2 linked regions of the Homo sapiens genome follow. The protein of the gene in region 1 purifies or fractionates together with the protein of each later gene. This does not show direct contact. Each region holds a gene or a part of one and is shown on either strand. Other genes may lie near its edges.

What was found. Proteins that work in one complex are often made in the same cells at the same time.
Region 2: the proteins of DNAJB14 (region 1) and KHK purify together in Homo sapiens (affinity purification with mass spectrometry; 2 studies listed by BioGRID and IntAct, with this or other methods). This does not show direct contact.

The regions. Positions count from the first base shown.
Region 1 is NC_000004.12:99,908,598-99,915,625, reverse strand, and holds part of DNAJB14 (dnaJ homolog subfamily B member 14), read left to right. Parts: intron 1-6,729; coding exon 6,730-6,915; intron 6,916-7,028. UniProt on the Homo sapiens protein: Acts as a co-chaperone with HSPA8/Hsc70; required to promote protein folding and trafficking, prevent aggregation of client proteins, and promote unfolded proteins to endoplasmic reticulum-associated degradation (ERAD) pathway.
Region 2 is NC_000002.12:27,089,744-27,096,771, forward strand, and holds part of KHK (ketohexokinase), read left to right. Parts: intron 1-2,588; coding exon 2,589-2,705; intron 2,706-4,730; coding exon of another isoform or gene 4,731-4,868; intron 4,869-5,056; coding exon 5,057-5,191; intron 5,192-6,985; coding exon 6,986-7,028. UniProt on the Homo sapiens protein: Catalyzes the phosphorylation of the ketose sugar fructose to fructose-1-phosphate.

The DNA of each region.
Region 1 (7,028 bases):
CCACTAATTTAAAATATTGAAATCATACAAGTATGTTCACTAACCACAGTGGAATCAAAGTGGAAATCAGTTACACAAAGGTAATAGGAAAACGTCCAGTCCTTGGAAACTGAACAACAAATTTCTAAGTATCCATGGGTCAAACAGGAAATATCAAAACAAATTTGAAAAAACATATTGATCTAACTTGGCCAGGCACAGTGGCTCACGCCTGTGATCCCAGCACTTTGGGAGGCCGAGGTGGGTGGATCGCAAGGTCAGGAATTTGAGACCATCTTGGCTAACACGATGAAACCCCATCTCTACTAAAAATACAAAAAAGTAGCCGGGCGTGGTGGCGGGCGCCTGTGGTCCCAGCTACTCGGGAGGCTGAGGCAGGAGAATGGCATGAACCTGGGAGGCGGAGCTCGCAGTGAACTAACTAAAAATGAAAATACAACAATTAAAATTTGAGAAGACCAGCTAAAGGAATGCTGAGAGGAAACTTGTAACATGAAATGCATATGTTAGAAAAGAAGAACAGCCTCAAATCAGTTATCTATGCTTCTACCTTACAAATCTAGAAAAAGAATAGCAAAATAAACTCAAAGCAAGCAAAAGAAATTATAAGAGTAGAAATCAGTACAATTGAAAAGAGTAACAATAGTGAATATCAATGAAACAGAGCTGGTTCTCTGAAAAAAATCAATAAAATTGAAAGACTGACCAAAAAAAGAAGACAGAAATGACCATTGTCAGAAATGGTGTCAGAGACAAGGATATCACTGCAGACATCAAACGGATAATAAGAGAATACTATGAACAATTCCATATACATAAGTTTACAAGTTAGATGAGATGGGCCAGTTAGTTGAAAAATACAAATCATCACAACTCAGTCTGACATAGATAACGTGAATAGCCCTGTAGAAATTGCTGTGGTTTGGGTATATTGAAATTTTTTAATTTTTATTTTTATTTTTTATTTTATATATATATTTTTATTATCCTTTAAGTTCTAGGGTACATGTGCACAACGTGCAGGTTTGTTACATATGTATACATGTGCCATGTTGGTGTGCTGCATCCGTTAACTCGTCATTTACATAAGGTATTTCTCCTAATGCTATCCCTCGCCACTCCCCCCACCCCACAACAGGCCCCAGTGTGTGATGTTCCCCTTCCTGCGTCCAAGGGTTCTCATTGTTCAATTCCCACCTATGAGTAAGAACATGCGGTGTTTGGTTTTTTGTCCTTGCGATAGTTTGCTGAGAATGATGGTTTCCAGCCTCATCCATGTCCCTAGAAAGGACATGAACTCATCATTTTTATGGCTGCATAGTATTCCATGGTGTATATGTGCCACATTTTCTTAATGCAGTCTATCATTGTTGGACATTTGGGTTGGTTCAGTATATTGAAATTTGATCCTCAATGTGGCAGTGTTGGGAGGTGTAGCCTAGTGGGAAGTGTTTGTGTTATGGGGGCAGATCCCTCATGAATGTCTTGCTGCTGTTCTCACAGTAGTAAGTTCTTGCTCTCTTGAGGCTAGATTAGTTCTTGAAGGAATTGATTATTTCCCGAATGAGTGGGTTGTTATAAAGCCAGGACACCCCTCAGGTTTTCCCCTCTTTGCACCTGTCTGCTTCCCCTTTGATTTTCTCCACCATGTTATGCAGCACAAAAGCCCTCACCAGAAGCCAAGGCTATGCCCACAAACTTTTCAGCCTATAGAACCATAAGCTAGTCTCAGGTATTTTTCTATAGCAACACAAAATGGACTAAGACAGAACTGTTCAGTGAATTAAAGTTGTAATTATGAAATTCCCAAAAAAGAAATATCCAGGCTCAGATGCTCTTATTGAAGAAGTCTACCAAACTTTTTAAGGAAGAATTAAAACTAATTCTACATAATCTCTTCCAGAAAATAGAAGAGGAAGAGACATTTTCCAGTTAATGTTAAGAAATGTTTTACCTTGCTTATATCAAAACCAAAGACATTACAGAAAAAAAAAAAAAAAAAAACTACAGACCAGTATACTTTGTGGGATAAACCCAAATGTCCTTAACAAAATATCAGAATTTTGCAGTATATAAAAAGAATTATATACCCCAAACAATAGAAGTTTATTTCAAGGTAGCAAAGTCAATTCACTATTTGAAGATCAATAAGTGTAATCCACCACATTAATTAAAGAAAAAAAATCCCACGATTATATTAATCAGTGGAATAAAAGCATTTGATACATTTCACCACCCATTCATGATAAAAACTGTCAGAAAAATAGCAATAGAAGGGACCTGCCTCAACTTGATAAAGAGCAACTACAGAACTCCTGTAAGCTAACATTAAATGGTGAAAGACTGAATGCTTTTCCCCTATGATCAAGAATAAAGCAAGAATATCTCTTTACCACTCATATTCAACAAAGTGCAGGAAGTAGTAATCACTGCGTTAAAGAGAGAAAAAGGAAATAAAAGGCATACAGACTGGAAAAGAAGAGCTAAAACTGTTGTTATGTGCAAATGACATGATTATCTATGTAGAAATCCAAGGAATCTACAGAAAAAACTGTGACTACAAAGCAAATCCCGTAAGATTGCAGGACACAATATAAATCTACAAAAAATTAATTGCATTTCTATTTACTAGCAATGAATATTTAGACACTAAAATTAATAATACATTAGCATTTACAATCATACATACAAAAAAATACTTAGGTGTAAGTTTAATAAAACTTTTATCACATTTATATACTGAAAGCTATACAATATTGATTAAAGAAATCAGAAAATAGCTAAATAAATGGACTGAAATATCATGTTCATGGATGGGAAGATTCAACATAGTAAAGATGTCAAGTCGGCTGGGCACGGTGACTCACACCTGTAATCCCAGCACTTTGGGAGGCCGAGGTGGGCAGATCACCTGAGATCGGGAGCTTTAGACCAGCCTGACCAACATGGAGAAACCCCATCTCTACTAAAAGTACAACATTAGCGAGGCGTGGTGGCGCATGCCTGTAATCCCAGCTACTCAGGAGGCTGAGGTAGGAGAATCACTTGAACCTGGGAGGTGGAGGTTGCAATGAGCCGAGATCGCGCCGTTGCGCTCCAGCCAGGACAACAAGAGCAAAACTCTGTCTTAAAAAAAAAAAAAAGTCAAGTCATCACAGATTGATATACAGATTTAACACAATTCCTGTCAAAATCCTAGCAGGATTTGTTTTGTAGATAGAAACAAGTTTTATTCTAAAATTCATATGAGGGGAAGAAAGAACCTGAATATTTAAAAACATTTATTTCTGTTAAAAGAATGTAGTTGGAGTAATCAGTGTTCCTGATTTCAGGATTTACTGTATAGATAAACAGTAAACAAAACTGCGTGGTAATGGCAGAGAGATACACACATAGATCAATAGAACGAGATAGGAAACCCAGAAATAGACTGATACCAATATAGCCAACTGTTTTTTGACAAAGATGCAAAAGCAGTTCGATGGAGGAAAGATAGCCTTTTCAACAGTTGGTTTTGAGGCAATTGGACACCCATAGGCCAAAAAATTAACCCTGACGAAAAGTATCATCCCTTATACACAAAATGAACTCGAAATAGATCATGAATGTAAATATAAAACATAACAATCAACAATAATGGGAGTCAATCTTTAGGATCTAGGGTGAGGCAATGATTTTTTAAGACTTAATCCCAAAAGCACAGTACATAAAAGGAAAAGTTGTTAAGTTGGACTTTAAGATTTTTTAAGCTTGCTCTGCCTTATTACGAGGATGAAAAGAAGCTCCAGGATGGAAAAAAAGATTTGCCAGGCACGTATTTGACAAAGGACAGGTATCTTGAATATATTAAATATAAAGAACTCCAAACACTCAAAAGTAAAATAACAGACAGTCCAATTAGAATGGGCAAAAAAATGAAGAGGCATTCCTTTGAAGATGATATACAGAGGGCAAATAAGCACAGTGAAAGATTTTCTCTGTCATTCATTAGTCATTAGAGAAATGCAAAGTAAAACCAAAATGGGATATCACTACACATTTATCAGAATGGCTAGAGTGAAAAATAATGACAATACCAAATGCTGGTATGGATGCAGGGAATGGATCACTCATACATTGTTAATGGGATATATAATGACACAGCTGTTCTGTACAACAGTTGGGCAGTTTCTCAAAAATCTGTGCAGCTACTATACAACCCAGCAATGCACTCCTGGGGATTTATTCCAGAGGAATGAAGATTTATGTTTACACCTAATCCTGTACATGAATATATATAGCAATTTTATTTGTAATAGCCAAAAACTAGAAAAAAACTAGATGTTATTCAGTGGTAAATGGTTAAACAGTGGTACATCCTTAACCATGGACTACTACTCACTAATAAAAAGAAATGAACTGTTGGCATATATGACAACCTGGATCTCCAGAGTATTATGATTTACAAAGCCAATCCCAAAAGGTTTCATTCCATTTATATATCATATAATATCCCATTTATATACTGTGTTATTTCATTAATATAATATTCTTGAAATGACAAAACTGTCAAAATGGAGAATAGATGAATGGTTGTCAGGGGTTGGGAAGGGAGGGAGGAGGAGTTGGATGTGGTTATGAAAGAGCAACATGAGAGTGGTGTTAGAAATGTTCTATATCCTGACTATATCAGTGTCAATATCCTGTTTGTGATATTGTAAGATAATTTTGCAAAATATTACTGTTGGGAAAAATTAGGGGAAAGGTACAGTGGATCTGTGTATTAAAAGTTTAAAGAAAAATAAATGAAGTGGAAGGTACCTTTTGGTGAAATAAGTGACAATGAGGTAGAAATGCGTTTTGTAAAACTTATGAATACCAAAATAAATTTAGGATATAATTATTTAGATAATAAGGAACTGCAAAAAAATCTTGATTATATGGGTATAGCACAAAGTAAATGAATAGAAATTTACTCTGGCCACAATATATAAATTGTCTTATGTGTACAATTATAGATTATGACAGTATTTCTCAAATACCATCTAAAATATCTTAATGTTTAGAAATTATTTTTTCTAAAAAAGGAAGCCTTAAAATAGAATTGGGTTGCCTATATATTAATAGTTTTAAAGTATTAAAACTATTAAAGTAGCATTATTGCATTACATGGGATAGCCCTTTTAGTTTATAGATGTTAAATCCTAAAATTGATATTGTTACTAAAAATACAATTTTAGCAGAGATTGATAGATATGCTTCTTTTTTTAGGTATGAGTTAATACCTTGATGTTGTTTGTAAGTACATTGTTTGGATCTTTGATTATACTTTCCCTTTGAAATAACTCATAAATGATGGCCACAGTTCTGAGTCACAGATTCTTTGAGAATCTGAAGAAAGTATCTCCTCAGATAGATGGATCATTCACCTAATTTTTCATTCAGCAGGGTATACTCACCATTTGAAAGCAATCTCTGAATCCCAGTTTTAAGAAGCTCGATTAGAAGAAAATATCCAGAGTATTGTATATAATTAATTTCAGTGTAATGTGTAATCATCCAAAAACAACTACCTAATGAGCATCTGTTTGCTTGTACAGTACCTATGGCAGCCACCACATGGGATCCAAAAACTATTTTTAAAATATTCTGTATTGCAAGAGGCTTACAATCTAGTTTAAGAAGCAAGATGTATTTATGAAGTGATTAACTATTAGAAGTGTCAGAGTACGAATAGGATAGTTCTTAGTTTTAGATTCAAAGCATTACAACTTGTAAATTGGTAAATTTGTAAATTTTAACAATTTTCTGGATTAGTTTCAGGTAGTCTTTTTTTTCAGCATGACATTAGTTTTTATGTGGGGCAGACTTTTATAATATAAAAACTTTGCTTACCTACTTTTACTCATTTCTTTTTCAGAGATTGGAAATGCTTATGCTGTTTTAAGTAAATTCTGGTAACCAGTGTAACATTACCTCTTTTGGATTTGGGACTGTGAGATGGGAAAGAGAATTCTTTTTTATAAATAAATGTTGTGAAGGTAGCAAAGTGAAATAGAAAAACTGAGGACTGTCTGTATTTATTTAAAAACTAATTCAGACTTTATGCTGGACCTTGGGGATATTGCCATGAAAACATAAACACAGTCCCTGTCTTTATGGAGTTTACTGTTTTAGGGGATAAATTGTTTGGGATAATAGAATGAAAAAATAGCTCATTCAGGCTCCAGGGTGCAAAAAAAGATTTTTGGTATGGGCTGCATAAAGAGAGTGTATTTATCGTGCTAAGAATAATTTGACTTTGCATGAGTTATTTAACCTTCTTGAATTTCAGGGCCCTCATTTGTAAAGTGAGGATAATAATGGACAATGTAATAAGGTATTGGGTGCAGAGCCTGGCAGTTCTTAGGTACTCAATAAATGATAGCTACTGCTATTGTTATTGGTTTAAACCACTTGAAGAATGGCTTAAGAGGCAGGATTTTAGGAGATGGAGCACAATATTAAAAAAGGAAGATGGATATTCCTTTGTTTTCAAGGCAGTAGAGAGACTTGTCTGGTATAAAAAGTTGTGTTGAGAGATAATATATGTAATTGCAAACAATGTATATCTTTAAAAGAACTTATTTTTAACAATTTTCTGGATAGTTTTAGGTAGTCTTTTTTTCAGCATGATGTTAGTTTTTATGTGGGGCAGCCTTTTATAATATAAAAACTTTGCTTACCAACTTTTACTCATTACTTTTTCAGAGATTGGAAATGCTTATGCTGTTTTAAGTAATCCAGAAAAGCGAAAACAGTATGACCTCACGGGCAATGAAGAACAAGCATGTAACCACCAAAACAATGGCAGATTTAATTTCCATAGAGGTTGTGAAGCTGATATAACTCCAGAAGACTTGTTTAATATATTTTTTGGGGGTGGATTTCCTTCAGGTATTTTAATGTAATTATAGATATTATATTTTATGAAGCTACATAGTCTTACCTCCAGTTAACGTTATTTAGAGATGTATCTACCTTTTCCCCTACATTTCTTGTAGTGTTAC
Region 2 (7,028 bases), on another chromosome or scaffold:
CCTTCCTGGGTGTCTCAGCCCCACCTGTCCTAGGGTCTCTGTGCTTGACAGGCAGTTGGGGACTCTTGGGAGCCGCCACCTGGAGCTCAGCCAGACCCCTGGGACGTGTCCTTTTTTTTATTTTTTGAGTTGGAGTTTTGCTCTTGTTGCCCAGGCTGGAGTGCAATGGTGCGATCTTGGCTCACTGCAACCTCCGCCTCCAGAGTTCAAGCAATTCTCCTGCCTCAGCATCCCGAGTAGCTGGGATTACAGGCATGTGCCACCACACCCAACTAATTTTGTACTTTCAGTAGAGATGGGGTTTCTCCATGTTGGTCAGGATGGTCTCGAACTCCCGACGTCAGGCGATCCGCCTGCCTCAGCCTCCCAAAGTGCTGGGATTACAGGCGTGAGCCACCGCGCCCAGCCTTTAGCTGAGCATTTCTGCACAGGAAATATCAGTGTGACTTTGAAGGGTTTCCCCAGAGTAAAATTCTATATCCTTTCTTAGAAACCTCAATGCTTGGGCCTAACAACTTTTAGTTTTAAAATACGGAGTAATTAGCAATGGCTTTGGGGTCAGGAAATTGGGTTCCCACATCAGCTTTGTCCTTAACTATTGATCAAGTCAGATCCCTCGAGATTCCTCCTTTTTTTTCATATCTTTTCGTAAAAATTTCTGTAAAGCTGTAAAGCTCAGCTTGAAAATCTTTTTTTTCTTTTTTCTTTCTTTTTTTTTTTTTTTTTTTGGAGACAAAGTCTTACTCTGTCACCCAGGCTGGAGTGCAGTGGCATGATCTTGGCTCACTGCAACCTCTGCCTCCCGGGTTCAAAAGATTCTCCTGCCTCAGCCTCCCGAGTAGCAGGGATTACAGGCACCTGCCACCACACCCGGCTCATTTTTGTATTTTTAGTAGAGACAGGGTTTCAACATCTTGGCCAGGCTGGTCTTGAACTCCTGACCTCGTGATCCACCCGCCTCAGCCTCCCAAAGTGCTGAGATTATGGGCGTGAGCCACTGCGCCCGGCCAGCTTGAAAATCTTTGACCAGCTGGGTGCAGTGGCTCATACCTATAATCCCAGCACTTTGGGAGGCCAAGGCAGGAGGATCGCTTGAGCCGAGGAGTTCGGGACCAGCCTGGGCAACATAAGAAGATGCCATCTCTACGAAAAAATTTTTTAAATTAGCGGGGCATGGTGATGCACACCTATAATCCCAGCTACTTGGGAGACTAAGGTGGGAGGATCAGTTGAGCTGGGGAAGTTGAGGCTGCAGTGAACCATGATCATGCCATTGCACTCCAGCCTGGGTGACAGAGTGACTCTGTCTCAAAAAAACAAAAAAATTACTATCCTTTGTCATTGTTGTTATTGTTGTTTTTGAGACAGGATCTCACTCTGCCACCCAGGCTGGAGTGCAGTATCATGGCTCACCCCAGCCTAAACCTCCCGGGCTCATACGCTCCCCCAACTTCAGCCTCCTGAGTAGCTGGGACCACGGGTATGCACCACCATACCCAGCTAATTTTTAATTTTTTTTTTTTTTTTAGAGACAAGAGCTCCCTTTGGTTGCCCAGGCTGGTCTCGAACTTCTGGGCTCAAGTGATCCTCCTGCTTTGGCCTCCCAAAGTGCTGGGATTATAGGCATAAGCCACTGTGCCTGTCCTACTATCATTTTTTTTCTAATGACATCGTGCTCCCCTTTTCCCAAAACTGAAGTTTCGCGTACAAATATGCTTTGGCCTAAAAATTCTGGTTCGGTTTTTTCTCTTAATTCGTGGTTCTTTGGTACTGTTCCTTTTATTGTAAACTGCCACAATTATTATTATTATTGGAACTGGCACAATAGAAATAACACCACCATTCTTACCTCAAAGGTAATAACATTCATTAATGATTTCTCATTTGGGCTCCAGTAACACTGTGAGGGGATCAGTGCGTTGACCCTCTATGTGGAAGTTATCATTTTTGCTGCTGATGACAATGAAGCCCTTCACGTGTGTCTTGTTAGTTTCCTTTTGGTTGGTTTTTAGTAAAGATGGAGAAGTGCTCCCTGCTGCCACTTCTTAAACGACCAACGTCCAGGTTTGCTGTCCTGTCTTACTCGTTTGATTTTATAGCTCTGCAGTTTCTATTGAAGTAGACACTCCTAACACAGGGGTAGGTGTAAATGTGATACCTTTGGGAAGAGGCACTTAGTCCCCGAGGTCCTTGGAGTTGCTCCAGCTCTCAAGGAGGAGGCCAAAGGTGCAGCGTCTGGAGCAGCTCTGACTGGGGTGAAAGGTGAGGAGGAGATGACCTGGAGTTAGTGGGTCTCTCGAATAGTGATGGACCCAAGTGAGTGGTTTCCTGTTGCCCTAGGAACAGATGGAAATATTGAAAGGAACTGCTGTCAGCTTGAATTTAGCCTGGGCTGGGGAGGTAGACACCGCTCTCAGCCAAGCTCCTTCCCTTGGCCGGCCTCGGCTGCCCCGGGTACAAAGTGAGACGTCGGCCTAGATGCTTTCTGAGAGGAGTCCCCAGCTGTTACATTCTGTAGGCCCCTATACAGGAGACTGTGCTTGGGATCAGCCTGCTGGGGCTGCAGGGACCCTCCCTGTGCTTTGCAGGTGTTTGTCCCAGAGATGGCAGCGCGGAGGCAACGCGTCCAACTCCTGCACCGTTCTCTCCCTGCTCGGAGCCCCCTGTGCCTTCATGGGCTCAATGGCTCCTGGCCATGTTGCTGAGTAAGTCCAGGAGGGAGAGCCCACTGGGGAAGGCCTGCCTGCATCATTGTGGGAGAAGAAGGATGTATCCACCCTGGGTGGATGGGGGATTAGAAATGGGTTGTGTCCAGCAGAAACGCGGGGAGGGGGCATGGCGGAGCACCAGACGCCCAGCCCTGCCTTGGCGTGGCCTCTCTGCGGTTCGGGGGCTGATGCTGCCCCTGTGAAGCTTTCCTTGCCACAGCTTGTTTCCTGGACACTTCTGGAGCCTGCTTCAGCCTCTTCCTTTCTCCTTCCTTGCTTCCTGCAGACTCTGCGGTGGATGTGCCTTTGCCTTATCTTAAGTCCCTTATCCTGGCCATGCTTGAGGCAGAAGGCAGTTAGGGACACGTGGTACCCATCCTCCCCCAGGTCCAGGCCCACAGTTTCTGTCCCAGTTGAGAGGCAGGGCTGGTGCTCATGTCCCTGTTGTTCACTGAAGCAGTGAGAGTACCCTGTTCAAGGACACCCTGAAGCCACATGCTAAAGCTGGGCTCAGAACCCACACCTCCCAGTTCCCCGGCTGTCAGGGCTATAGCCCTAAATGGCTCATGCACGCCCTCCATGTTGGCTGCTGCAGGGACCTCAGAGCCCTTTGACCCCTGGCGCTGCCGACTCAGCAAGCACTTATCGGGAGGTGAGGCCCACACTTTGCACACTGTGGGCACGGGGGCAGGCTGCCAGGTTGCTGGCCTGTGAAGGGCAGCCCTTTGAACCCTGGTTTGAAGGGGGCTGCTGGCAGAGTCCAACCACCTGAGCTACAGCCAAACTCCCTGCCTTGATGAACTGGCAGGAAGAGAATAGAGGGAGAGAATCTGCCCTGTGAGATGGGACAGGACGGCTCAGAACCAAGGGCTGGTGACTCATTAAACCTCTTTAATAGCTCCTTTCCTCTGAGCTAGAGGCAGGACTGTGGCTCTGGCTTAGGATGGTCGACTCTCCTTTACATAGCAATCAGGCCAATGGGTGGTTTATTCAGAATTCTCCCCATGTGCTCGACAAACATTTAGAGAGCACCTACCATGTCCCAGGCACTGGGGTGCGAAAGTTATTTGGCAAACCAAACCATATTTCCAATGCTTTGGGAAAGTTACTATTTAAAGGAGTTGTAAGTCAAGGGATGATGCCCTGACTTGGTATCTTTATGCAAATCTGTATTATCCAGCTTTGGTGTTGCTGAAAGCGGGCTCTGGCCAGGTGAGAAAAGCCAGGATGGTGGCTGGACTGCTGGGCATAATTGCCAGTTCTTGAGCACAGAACAATGCCTGTCCATAGAGGGCTGGAAGGGCTGGGGCTGACCTCCTTGTCCTTGCCCCTGGGCTCACTCTGCATGGAGGGCATTCCAGGAGAGAGTTCTGGACCAGGCCCATACTGAGTGGCATCAGGCACGGGGAGCCAGCTGATTGCCCAGGAGGGTTCACCTGGCTGCAGGAGGACAAAGCAGTGAGCTGGCTCACCAAGGCAGCACCACTTCCAGGCTGGGCCTCCTGGAGGCAGGCAGAGAGTGAGAGGAATCACAGCATTAGGACTGGGAGGGACTGAGAGAGGACAGCACCCTGGATGAGCTTGTGGAGGACAGCTGGGGGCAAAGTATTGCCTTGGAGATTAATTATTAATCCTGTTTGGGCATTGCAGGAAACAAGCCACGGTGCCCCCACATGCTTGGTTCAAACAGTGTACAGGTTCTAGGGTCCTGTCTAGCTTTATGAACAGGAGCAAATCCTTTCCAGCATGAGTTGGACTGAAAAACAGAGTCAGGATCGGAGCATGCTTCAGCCAAGACCTAAAAGGATGGCCCTTAGTGTTTCTCTCTCTGAGCTCCAGGCTCTGCACTCCTGCATCTCCTGCCCTGTTGCACTGCCTGTGGCAAGACTGTGATTCCCAGTTCTCTCCCAGCCCCCTTTGCTTGCACCCCTGCCTTTCAGGGTCCCTAGTGGCCCTGCCAGCTACCCTCCAGTCCCCAAAACCCTTGTCGAACTGCACCCCCTTCGGGTTACTCCGCCCTAGCAGTTTTGTCCTGGATGACCTCCGCCGCTATTCTGTGGACCTACGCTACACAGTCTTTCAGACCACAGGCTCCGTCCCCATCGCCACGGTCATCATCAACGAGGCCAGTGGTAGCCGCACCATCCTATACTATGACAGGTTTGTACAACTGTCTGTGCCTTGCCAGCTGCTGCCGCCGCCACCAAAACTCCCAGAACAGGACTCTTCTTCTCTTAGAGGCTCGTGTGCTCCAGCACCCTCTCCCCACTCCTTTTGGAGGTCCAGACCACTTCCAGGCTCTAATCTGTGTCTCCTTGCCCTTTTCCTGGCCCGGCCTCCACCCTAAGCTTCCTGGTGGCCGACTTCAGGCGGCGGGGCGTGGACGTGTCTCAGGTGGCCTGGCAGAGCAAGGGGGACACCCCCAGCTCCTGCTGCATCATCAACAACTCCAATGGCAACCGTACCATTGTGCTCCATGACACGTAAGGCCCCCGGGCCTCGCCCTGCTACAACCCACCAATCAGTTGGCTCAATCAGTTCCCTCACTCGCCACCATGGGCATCCCAACTGCCCCCCTCTGTGGCTTCTGTGTACCAGAAGTTGCTCCCCTGCCAAAATGTCCAGTGATTTCCTAATTGCTTTCAATTAGGGGAAAAGTGAGGTGGGAAGGGATGGGCTTTGCTGTGCCTGGTGACTTGGCCTTGGTCAACACCAAAGAAGGGCAGGCAGGCCTATATAAACTGTAATTTATTAAGTGATTCCTCCATAATTATTAAATCGTTAATCAGCAGCTTGGCTGTGGGTGCGGGGAAACTGTTCTCAGGACAGAAGGGTGGGAGATGGGATTCAACCCTTCTTAAGAAGGGCTGTGGGGGGGTGCCCACTGGGATTTCCAAAGTCAGCCCCAGAGTTGCCAGCCTGCAGCATGGCACCAAGGAGCTGGGGTTTGGGTGTGTAAAAGAGATCAGCCCCCCAAAGTTTCCAGCATGATGAAGCCAGGCCACACACCATTCACAGCCATTGCTGAAGGAGGGGAAAGGAAACATGGGGTCAGCAGATCAGGGTCATCTAACATGGTGCTGACCTGGGGGAAGGGGCTATCCCTCCCTTCAGGGTCCCAGGCCACTCAAGAGAGGCCCCATGGGCCTAGACACTTCTTATCCCTTGCAGACTCCCTCCTGCAGGATTTTAGAGGTTTAGTGTACTAAGAACCTAGTACGTGCCAGGTACTGTTATGGCTGAGAGGGCCCAAGCCCAGCAGCCCTCAGGTTCAGGCTGTTCCTACGGCCCAGCCTGACTGCCGGACCTGGAGGAGGGGCAGCCATCCCTGGGCTTCATATGTGCAGTGAGTGTGAGTAGGCAGGCATATGTGCTACAGGTGACCTTCGCATTGGGCAATCCTAGTCAAATGCTTGTTAAGCAACAATCCGTAGTAACCCTGATCAAGGACACAACATAGCTATTTACAGGAGAGGAGCTCTGAGGAGAAATGTTTCTTGCCCACTGGCCTCAGTCCAGGCACATTCACACACATTACCTGCAACTGCAGCAGGCTGCAAGGGGGCTGGGGGTTTCAGCCCCATTTATCAATGTGGAAGTTGCCTCCCAAAGGCCCGGGCAGATCACACAGCTATAGTTAAGTGGAAGGACTCGGCTACAGAACGTGGAGCGGGGACTTTGGCTGAGTTGAGGTCTCTGGCTCAGGAGGGTCAAGGCAGACCTCTATCGGGAGTCCCCTTTCCTAAACCGGCCAAACACAAACTCTTCCTCAAGTGCTACCTTGACCTCAGGGTTGCAACGGGGAGCTATTAAACGCAGGACAGGGGTGCCATAGGTAAACCCCAACGCTGGGGCGCCAGAAGTGAGGGGGACCAGACAGCCCAGGCAGGGGGTCGCGGGCTTTATACTTTCCCAGGGCTCTGCCTGTGGGAGCCGTGTGCTGCTGCAAGGGATTCTGGGAAGTGTAGGCTTGGCGCTCTCAGTGCATTCTGGGAGATGCAGTCTCCAAGGCACACAGACCTTGCCAGTTGACATGTGTTGCAGTTCAGTTTACCGAGATAATTTAATCACAACCTCAAACTCAGGAAAGGGCACCCCAGCAGACTGTAACAGGGACAACCCTGGAGCTGAGCCTGAGAATCCTGTGCTGTGGATCCAGCTTCCTGTCATGCTGCCAGCAGTGCAGGCACAGGGTCCACAGCTGCCAGTTAGAGATCCTGGCTCTGCCTGACCCCATCATGCTCCTTCTTCTCTGTCTTTTCCATCCTGTGACCTAGGAGCCTGCCAGATGTGTCTGCTACAGACTTTGAGAAGGTTGAT